2 separate regions of the Homo sapiens genome follow, and region 1 is linked to region 2. Evidence: fine-mapped expression QTL. A gene starts in region 2. The other region holds a variant in brackets. All regions are shown on one strand. Distances are from middle to middle.

What was found.
Region 1: its variant is fine-mapped to the expression of MYO10 in thyroid (GTEx, PIP above 0.99).

What each region holds. Positions count from the first base shown.
Region 1 is chr5:17,022,755-17,028,128 of GRCh38, forward strand. No RefSeq gene overlaps it. Among named protein-coding and RNA genes, the nearest start is that of MYO10, 89 kb to the left of the region's middle. The variant A/G (reference allele first, on the strand shown) is at 2,018.
Region 2 is chr5:16,933,491-16,938,866 of GRCh38, forward strand. It overlaps MYO10 (myosin X), which reads right to left and starts at 2,798. Exons shown (of 41, transcript NM_012334.3): 1 at 2,298-2,798. The coding sequence starts at 2,318.

The DNA.
Region 1 (5,374 bases), 89 kb after region 2:
ACAGTGAAACCTCATCTCTACAGAAAATACAAAAATTAGGCCGGTTGCAGTGGCTCACGCCTGTAAACCCAACACCTTGGGAGGCCGAGGCTGCCAGATCGCGAGGTCAGGAGATCAAGACCATCCTGGCCAACACTGTGAAACCCTGTCTCTACTAAAATACAAAATATTAGTCAGTCGTGGTGGTGCACACGTGTAGTCCCAGCTACTTGGGAGGCTGAGGCAGGGGAATCGCCTGAACCTGGGAGGCAGAGATTGCAGTGAGCCGAGATTGTGCCACTGCATTCCAGCCTGGCTGGTGACAGAGCAAAACTCTGTCTCAAAAAAAAAAAAAAAAAAAAAAGGCAAAAATAGCCAGCATGGCGGTGTGTCCCAGCTACTCACCCGGAAGGCTGAGATGGGAGGATCACTTGAGCCTGGGAGATTGAGGCTGCAGTGAGTCGTGATTGCCCCACGTGACAGAGTGAGACCGTCTCAAAAAAAGAAAAAATTCACGTATCATAAAATTAACCTACTTGAAGTGTATAGTTTCATGTTTTTAATATATTCATAGGCCTGTGCAGCTAGCAACACAATCCACGTCTAGAACATTTGTGTCCCTTCCCTAAAAACCCTGTGCCCGTTTGTAGTCACCTCCCATTCCTGCCTTGGACTATCTCATCTTTGTAAATATTTTCCCCAAACATCTTAGTTTTTTAAACTTACTTTTATTAAGCGTAGTAAACAGTGTACAAAGTATATTGTAGTACATTGTAAACACTAGTGAGGGAACACAGGGCCATGCTACATAATTTACACAGATCATTCACTTACCAAATAGTAATGGAATGACTGTTACGTGCCAGACATTGTTCTGAGGCTTAGCATATAGCTATGAACCAAATAGACACAAACTACTGCCCCTGTAGAACACACATTCTAGTCAGGGGGGAGGGGACAGCTAATACATAAGTTAAATATAACAGCATATAATATGTTACATGGTGGCCAGGCACAGTGGCTCATGCCTGTAATCCCAGCACTTTGGGAGGCCGAGGCGGGAGGATCACTTGAGGTCAGGAGTTCGAGACCAGCCTGGCCAACATGGTGAAACCACATCTCTATAAAGATAAAAAAATTAGGCTGGGCGCAGTGGCTCACACCTGTAATCCCAGCACTTTGGGAGGCCGAGGCGGGAGGATCACGAGATCAGGAGATCGAGACCATCCTGGCTAACACGGTGAAACCCCATCTCTACTAAACAAAATACAAAAAATTAGCTGGGCGTGGTGGCGGGTGCCTGTAGTCCCAGCTACTCAGGAGGCTGAGGAGAATGGTGTGAACCCGGGAGGCGGAGCATGCAGTGAGGCGAGATCACGCCACTGCACTCCAGCCTAGGTGACAGAGCAAGATTCTGTCTCAAGAAAAAAAAAAAAAAAAAAAGGCCAGGCATGGTGCTTCAGGCTTGTAATCCCAGCACTTTGGGAGGCCAAGGCGGGCAGATCACGAGGTCAGTTCAAGACCAGCCTGACCAACGTGGCGAAAACTGTCTCTACTAAAAATACAAAAATTAGCCAGACATGGTGGCGGGCGCCTGTAATCCCAGCTACTCGGGAGGCTGAGGCAGGAGAATTGCTTGAACCTGGGAGGCGGAGGTTGCAGTGAGCCAAGATCGTGCCATTGCACTCCAGCTGGGTGACAGAGCGAGACTCTGTCTCAAAAAAAAAAAAAAAAATTACATGGTGATAAGCGCTATAGAAAAAAAATTAATTAGGGAAGGGGAGTGATGAGTGTTTTCATTATTGTGAATATATACTGGTATGAAAAATTTATTTGAAAGAAGTTATGTTGGACATTTTCAAAGAGCAATATTAAAAGAGGCTTAAGAGATGGTATTTTGGCCTGGAAATGAGAGCACTTAAATTCAGCCACCTGTGCAGCACTATGAGATCCTGGAAGGGGCAATGTGTGCAGAGAATAAAGAAGGAATTGCAAAACGGAGAAACACTTAGTGTGCACCGGAGTTCGGCTATCAGCC[A/G]AACAAGGCTGACAGTGTTTACAAGGCTGGGAGCCTTGGTGCTCCCAGCCTGAAGCTTGGCTGGACCTGGAGGGAGAGCTCCTTTAAGTGTCCCCGAAAGGCCTGAGCACAGGCTGGCTGCGATGTTCACTCTGCTCACATTCCTAGGCCAATGCTGAGTCCTTGGTCTTCCCTGGTTAATTTGAAGAGGAGCACTCTCTTAAACTCAGGAGCTCAGAAAGGAGCTGGTGAGAGAGAACCTGGGAACTTTCTGCCCCAGGCCTGGAGTCTCTGTTCTAGGCCTTATTTATTCATTCTATGATGAGTCATCACTGTTGATGGCTTCTGGGGCTCAGCAGTGAAAGAGAGACAAAGACGCTGACATGATAATTTACTGGGAGAAACACTTTCTTTTTCATTTTTTTTTTTTTTTTAAAGAGATGGGGTCTCACTATGTTGACCAGGCTGGTCTTGAACTCCTAGCCTCAGGCGATCTTTCTGCCTCAGCCTCACAAAATGCTAGAATTAACAGTTGTGAGCCACTGTGCCTGGGTCTGGAGAAACACTTTAAAAGTAATTTCAATAAAGTATGGTGACCTGCTATATAGCACAGTGGTTCGGGTCCCCGACTTAGGAGCGGGATGACGTGGCTCTGCGTTACTGCTCTGTAACTTTTAGCAACTCCATTTCTTTGTGCCTCAATTCCCTTACTTATAAAATGGGGATGATAATAATGATATCTATGCCATGGGAGAAGAACAGTGCCCTACATAGTGAATGCTAAATAACTACCATAGACGTTTTCTCTAGTTACAGAAAAGAAGGCTGAGTTTGCTTAAAAAGTGGCCTCAGGGCACTATTCACAATAGCAAAGACTTGGAACCAACCCAAATGTCCGTCAATGATAGACTGGATTAAGAAAATGTGGCACATATACACCATGGAATACTATGCAGCCAGAAAAAAAAGATGAGTTCATGTCCTTTGTAGGGACATGGATGAGGCTGGAAACCCATCATTCTGAGCAAACTATCTCAAGGACAGAAAACCAAACACCACATGTTCTCACTCATAGATGGGAATTGAACAATGAGAACACTTGGACACAGGGTGGGGAACATCACACGCCGGGGCCTGTCATGGGGTTGGGGGAGGGGAGGGGAGAGGGATAGCACTAGGAGATATACCTAATGTAAATGACGAGTTAATGGGTGCAGTACACCAACATGGCACATGTATACTTATGTAACAAACCTGCACGTTGTGCACATGTACCCTACAACTTAAAGTATAATAATAAAAATAAAAAAAATTTAAAAAGTAGCCTCAGGGAAATGAAAAATCCACACCCACTGCTACCTGTATCCCCCTGGAAGATTCCAGCACAAAGATGTGGGCCAATAAAATTTCCTAGCATTTGGCTTATCCCAGATCAGCCCACGTGCTTGGGAGTGGAGTACATTTACCTTTTTTCCCAATTCAACCTAAAGGAGAAGGTTTAGGGTGGGGGAAGTACAGAGAGGGGCTTTGAATTTCTTCACCATATAGGTCAGTATTCTCACACTGTTGGTTCCTTTTCCTGATTATTCAATAGGCTTAACAGTCAGGCTGTGAACCCACCTCCATAGGCAGGTGAGATCAGTGCAATATCAGATAAGTAGAGCCTTATGTTTCTCCTGAGAGCAATGAGATTTGGTGTTTTCCTCACCCCCACCTCTTCAGCAAATGCCCCTTTGATGCTTTCCCCAGAAGCTTCTACCATAGGACAAGGCAGGGCTTCAAGTTCTTTCCAAGGACACCCTTGATTCTAGACTAGGAACAAGCCCCCAACATCATTTCCATTTTACATTACCTTTATTTAATCTGTCCAACTTAAGCACAAGGTGAAATTAAATGACAAACGTTGGTTTATAGAATCACCCCGAATCATACAGCACTGGCAATGAAAAACAAGAGAGCCATATGAATTATCCCCCATTACCCAGCGAACCCCTTTAATCCCCAGTGAAATTAAAGAATCCTAAGTAAATGTGCTTTTATCTTGTTGCCACAGAGAAATTAAAAATCAGTAGAAAGAAGAGAAAGAGAAAGTGAGAAAGAAAAAGGAAAAAAAGGAGGAACGCAGTTTCTCTTTTCCATTTGGAAATTAAATTCCAAAGCCCTCCCTCCTCATTTGTTTGTTCGTTTGTTTTGTTTTGTTTTCTTGTTTTTTGAGACAGAGTCTCACTCTCTCACCCAGGCTGGAGTGCAGTGGCATGATCTTGGCTCACTGTAACCTCCACCTCCCGGGTTCAAGTGATTCTCCTGCCTCAGCCTCCCAAGTAGCTGGGATTATAGCTGGGGTTACAGGCACCTGCCGCCACCCCCAGCTACTTTTTGTATTTGAAATAGAGATGGGGTTTTGCCAGGTTGGCCAGGCTGGTCTCAAACTCCTGACCTCCAGTGATCCACCTGTCTTGGCCTCCCGAAGTGTTGGGATTACAGGCGTGAGCCACCATGCCCTAGCCTCATTTGTTTTTAAAATTGCACTATTATCATTCCCATTTAAGAATTCATTAATGGGGCTTTGAAGACTTCCCGAATGGACCGAGCTTCCAGGGTTAGGATGACATCTCAGGAGAGCTCACTCAGCCTGTGACCAGGGAGCTGCCTGTTTCCTCTTGGTCACTTTCAATGCAGTTTTGGGTAACAGCTGTGGCTCAAGTTTGTGGTGTACAATTATCCTGATCAGTGAAAAGGAGGGTTTCAGCACACATAGTTCTTCTTTAGTTATATAAATCATTATTCGATGAATAGTAGAGACAATTAACTACTCTCTAATTTGTCCTACTTTGACTTTATAAAAGTAATCATTAAAATGATATTTTACTAGCACAAATGTATGTTAAAGTTGCAGATTTAGGAGTATATATTCAGGGCAACTTGAATCTATGTTCCCAGGTAAAAGAATGTTTTAAAAACATTTCACGTGGGCCACGGTGGCTCATGCCTGTAATCCCAGCACTTTGGGAGGCCGAGGTGGGCAGATCACTTAAGATCAAGAGTTCCAGACCATCCTGGCCAACGTGGCGAAATCTCATCTCTACTAAAAATACAAAAATTAGCCAGGCATGGTGGCACACACCTGTAGTCCCAGCTACTCGGGAGGCTCAGGCAGGAGAATAGCTTGAACCTGGGAGGTGGGGGTTGCAGTGAGCCGAGATCGTACCATTGCACTCCAGCCTGGGCAAAAGAGCGAGACTTTGTCTCAAAAACAAACAAACCAAAAAAAAAAATTTTTTTTCAGATGTCTTTATCCCTGGGATGCAAGGTTGGTTCAACATAAACAAATCGATAAATGTGATTCATCACATAAACAGAACTAAAGAGAAAACCCAC
Region 2 (5,376 bases):
TCCAACAAGCAACAAGTCATTTACCCCTAAGCCACAATGGGAAAAGTTAGCAAAGACAGAATTCTACTTAGTGATAAGGAGGCCAAACAATTTAGCTGTCCTTGGGGAATATATCACTTCCACACTCGCTGTTTCTATTCTAACAGGACATTAATTACAGCATTTTCTTCACTGGACAATTTAACAAAAGGATGCTCCATTACAAGACATGAGAGAGAGAAAGGGGAGCTGGGATCTATGTTAAGAGTATGTCTACAATTAATACCTCACTATTTAACCTCTCTGACTGGCCCTGCTTCCTTCCCACTCAAAGTGATTAGATTTAAGGGTGGAACTTTCACGGCTGATTAGAAGTTAATATTGTAATACACATACATCACAAGATTAAAAGTATAACCTTAAAATAAGCGAAAAGTTCCCAGAAATACCAAAGTCACCAGCAGCAAAGGAAAAAGGCTCTGGATTCGTGAACAAGCTCTTCAAAGCTGGGCAAGGGACTTACTCATATCTTTGGGTTAAGATTCTGTCTACAAAATGAAGAGGAGAAAGTAGAAGATCACTAATGGCCAACTGCAAAATAATATTGATCACAGAAATAAAATCCAACAACCAGGCCCCTTACACTGAACTAAGGTATCCAGTGCAAGATGAAAAGAGTACTTTGAAAAGTCAAAGTCTCACCGGGTAACAGGAGATCAGGACGCTGTAGCGCGTTATCCTGATGTTCCCCCCACTTGCACTAGGGGGCAGAGTTCTCCCCAAGGGGGAGCCACGGACCCCTGTGGTGCTCAGACAGGCTACAGGAGGAGTGAGATCCGTGCAAACTGAATACAAATTTCTATATTTTCATCAGATTTTCTAAGGGACCCAGAACACAAAAACAACAAAGTTAAGAATCATTGCCCTAGGGGCAGGGCCTCCGTTTTCTTACAGATGCAAGCAATTAAACACCGGAACTCACTGTAGCCCGAGGGTCCTTTACCACTGGACAACGTGCAACTCTTGCAGAAAGTTCTGGTGCCTTTCGACAAGCATGAAAACAAAAGTCTATGGACTAGAAAATGCGAGCGTCTCACAATTATATATATTTCACTTTTTTTAAGAAAAGGAAAAATATGTATTGATGGATAATTCCTTTCTAGTCTTCCTTCCACAATGAATGTGGGTATCACATCTGAAACACCACTTTTAAAAACTAGATATGACTACTAAACAAGAATGCATTTATCACTTTGGCCAGTATGAATAGCTGTCTGAGAATACAGTCAGTGAGCATGCAGAAAGCAGAATGACTTGAAATATTATATCCAATTAAATCAGATAAACCAAGTCGGCTAACACAGAGGCAAGCCCTCATCAATCTGATTTGCTGGAAGACTCCAAAGCGGTTCTGCACTCAGAAAACATTCCCTGGCTTTCAACGAAAATCACATCAGACTCTCTCAAGTCAACTAAGTTTACTTTGAGCCACTTCAAACCTCAAACTTAAACAGAATTTATTAAATAAACACAACCAAGAAAGGAAAGGGAGCCAAGAAACCACAGTAAGTCTCGATCCCAAAGGGGGAAAAAGGGTTCTCAAGTTAAGTTTCAGTGTCCCACCCTCAACGACCCTAAAGAGGGCATCCGTTTCATCTATTAAAATAGCCACTGTTTGCCCTAAACGAATTTTCTTTACATTCGAATTCAAAATCTGCATGGACACTCTACACAAATACATGATCATTTGATCCCAGGGTCTGGAGTTATCCCAAGCCTTAAAAGAGCACTTCTCGGCGAGCAAAGTAACCGATTAAACCCTTGCCTCTCCTTCTCACACTTCATTAAGCCGTCTCCTCTGGAAGTGTTTGAACCCCTGCACAGGAAGCCCGCACGTTTTGCAAAGGAAATACCAGACAAGACCTTTCTTGGAGAAAGGCAGGTCCCCGCTGAACATTTTATTGGGCTTCCTGCACCCGGGCAGTCGAGCGGGCGGATCGCCCCGCCCGCGCCCCGGCGCGCGCCGCCTCACCTGGCGCGGGTGTCCCAGGGCGCCCCGAGAGCCAGCCACCCACGCAAACGGAAACGCACCTTCGCTACCTCCCGGAGCAAAATGCGAGCGCGGGACAGGACGAAACAAAACCTGCCCGGGCTTACTCATCAGAGACTCCGCGGGGGGATGGGGGGTGATTTCAGGAGACTCCCAGAAAGTTGCGCCTTCCAGGGCTTAGGAAAAAGTACCCAGGGCGCGCGGCGTGGTGGGCAGACGCCTCTCTCCCTGGGCTCCGGAGGCCAGGTCGGACTGGGAGCGCACTTACCTCGGTGAAGAAGTTATCCATTGTTCCAGCGCAGTCCCGGACTCGCCGAGTGCCGCTCCGACTCGCGGAAGTCAGCGCCGCCGCGGGTCCGGGGAAACCATGCGTGTCACGGCGCCACTCCCGAGGACGCGCGCCCGCGGGGCTCCCCTGCTGCCATCGCCCGGTCCCTTCTTGTCCTTCTCACCTTTTGTTCGCCCAAACCCAAGTCCCTAACTCGCCCGTCCCGACGGCAGCCTTTGTCTCTTCTTCCTCCAAGTTCCTCACTACTGGGCGCAGCGCTCGCAAGCGGAGAACAGCTGGTGGCACATTCTTCCCCCAGGCGGGGGAAGGCGGCGGGGTGCTGGCGAGCGCGGCCCCCTCCCTCTGCGCTCCGGCCGGGGGCCCTCGGGGCGGGCAGGAGGACAGCGGGCCGCAAAGTGAGCAGGAGCCGCGATCCCCGCGCGAGCGCTTGGAGGTGAGCAGTCCCGCGCCGCGGCTCAGCCAGCTCTCGCCCGCGGGACTACAGCCCAGCGACCTCGCCCCGCCCTCCCGCAGCCGGCCCCGCCCTCCCGCAGCCGGCCCCGCCCTCCCGCTCGCGGCCCCGCCCCCAGGAGCTTGGCCCTCCGCCAACCACACCGTCTGGCCCCGCCCGGGCGGAGCGCCCCGCCCCCTTCCCGACCAGGCCCCGCCCACTCTAAGCCCGAAGCAGCCGCAGGCTCGTTAGCGGACCCGGGAGGGGGCCGCGTGTTTCCCCAGGTCTTCCCACGTAGGCGTGGGGAGGGGATTTAACTCTTCCCTCTGCAGAGAGAGACTAAACAATCACTTAGAGGGGAGGAGAAGGGACTGGGGGCTTCTGTGCCTTTCATGTTTAGCAGACCCGGGAACCGGCTCAACACGGATCTCATTAATGCAGCCCGGTAGACTAGCAATCTCGGGAAGGAAGCGCGGTCAGCGGAGCTGCCGGGGCTGCGGGGCCAGATCAAAGCGGAAGACGGAGGCTAATCAGAATTTCTGGAAGCTGCATTCCCGTGTTGACTTTCTGTCCTGCAGTCGGGTTTGCTTAAGACGTTTGCGTAACAGCGGGGAAATGTAGTTTTGAAACTGGAAGGGGACGTGGCCAATATCACCTTTAAAAATGTAACCCTTTTCTAGACCTCAAGGAAGCAGAGATGGCAGATGGCACTGAGATGGACGAATGATCAAACCCACCTGGCACTGAGTCCCGTTTCCCCTAGGGCAGTTCTTTTAACTTTATGCTGTGCGAGGGTCACCTGGGAACCTTGTTAGAACGCAGGCTGGAACAATCTGCTTTCCAGGTGCCCCTCAGGTGCTACCTGGTCCTGTGCTGAACGAAAGCTTGTAACAAGTAGAGAAATTAAGAGTAAACGTTTGTAGCAATTTAATAATGCCACGACATCCAAGCACATGATCAGTGGACTCTTTGAACCGAGTATAAACCAGTTTGGGTGTTGTCAGACTCACGTGGTGAGTCACACCTGGCGCCGCAGTGTATTGGTACCTGGCCGACTGGGAACAAAAATGGCTGGTTCTTCAGCACAAAAGATTTGAGATGCTCTCTCCAGGGAATTTGCCAACTGCTACTCAACCTTTAAAACTCAGCTCACAAAGTCACACCTTCCAGGGGAAGGAACCCTTCCCAAAGATGCTACTCCACTCACCCCACCCAAGCTCCCCGTAACCACTGGGCTAGATGCCCACTCTAGGATTTATTCCTAAGACTGTTGGGGAAGGACTGTGCTTTAAGATGAGTATCCCCAGGCTGTCTCACAGCATGAATGAATGAATGAAACATCCTTCTGTAATCCTTATGGGGAAAGTCAAGCATGTTTGTAACTTATCCCAGTCCAGTTCTTCACCATTAATATCATTGCTCCCACCTCACTTCCCTTTAGAAAGAGTCAAGGTGTAAATTAGTTAATGATATTGTGCAATGTTGTTCTGTTTCACAGGTTTACACGCTTAAGGCGCTGAGCCATTAAAGCTTGTGTCCAAGGTCGCAAGGAAAGTGAAGATGGAGTCAGGATAAATACCAACAATCCCAGTGCTTAGTCAAATGGGTCCTGCAACCACTGGTGTTCAGATACTGGAGCAGAACAATTACAGTCATTATGGTATTAATCTGCACACAACATCTCTGCCAGAGAAATTACCAGGGAGATTGTTGAAGTGAGTGTGTGGGTGTGACGTGGTTCCCAGCATCAGCCCAGCCACTGATACGTTGGGCAACCTCGCCATGTCATTTCAAAAGTCACTTTCCATATCGGCTCATCAGTTATAACAAATGTACCACACTAATGCAACATGTTAATAATAGGGGCAAGTGAGGGTGAGGGGCTGGGAGGGGTCTATGGACACTCTCTGTACTTTCTGGCCAATTTTTATGTAAGCCTAAAACTGTTTTTTTAAAGTCTACTAATCTTTTAAAGGTGATTTTCCTGCCAATTATGAAGATATCGTTAATAATTGCCCCCAATTTGACTCACGTAAAGAATGGTGAGCCAGATCCAATATATAAAGTTTAGATTTTACTGAATCATTTTATTTCTTCAAAAAGCTTACATCATCAGTTAACAGGGTAAGAAAGTTAAAAAAAAAAACTTACATCAATGTTTTATCAATGTTGATCCCTAGATCACCTTATCAGTTGCTAAAAAGAAAAAAAAACTGACTCCAAATCTCTGTGGCAAATTGATTTCCTAAGAATTTGCATTTTTTATTTCTTTACCTGTGGATTATATTGAAAGAATTTGCATTTTAATAAGCACCCCGATAACCAGTTCAGAGCTTGGGAATCGCCACTTTATCAGAATTCATCAGCTTTTCTATATATCCCCATATTCTCAAAAAGGTGTAAGATAAGCTGTGGCAGCGAAACTCTTACTTGCTGAACAGCAAAATGCATGTTCTAAATAAGATATCTAACCCTCAAGTATCTGGGGTTGAATCAGTTGTTAAAAAGCAGCGTGTTAAATTTATAAGGGCTTTGACAGGATTGGACAGAGACTGGGAAGCATTTTAAATCAATAGATTTCTAAGAATATCTAGTCTTATTACCATTTCTTAAAATTTGAGTGCTTCC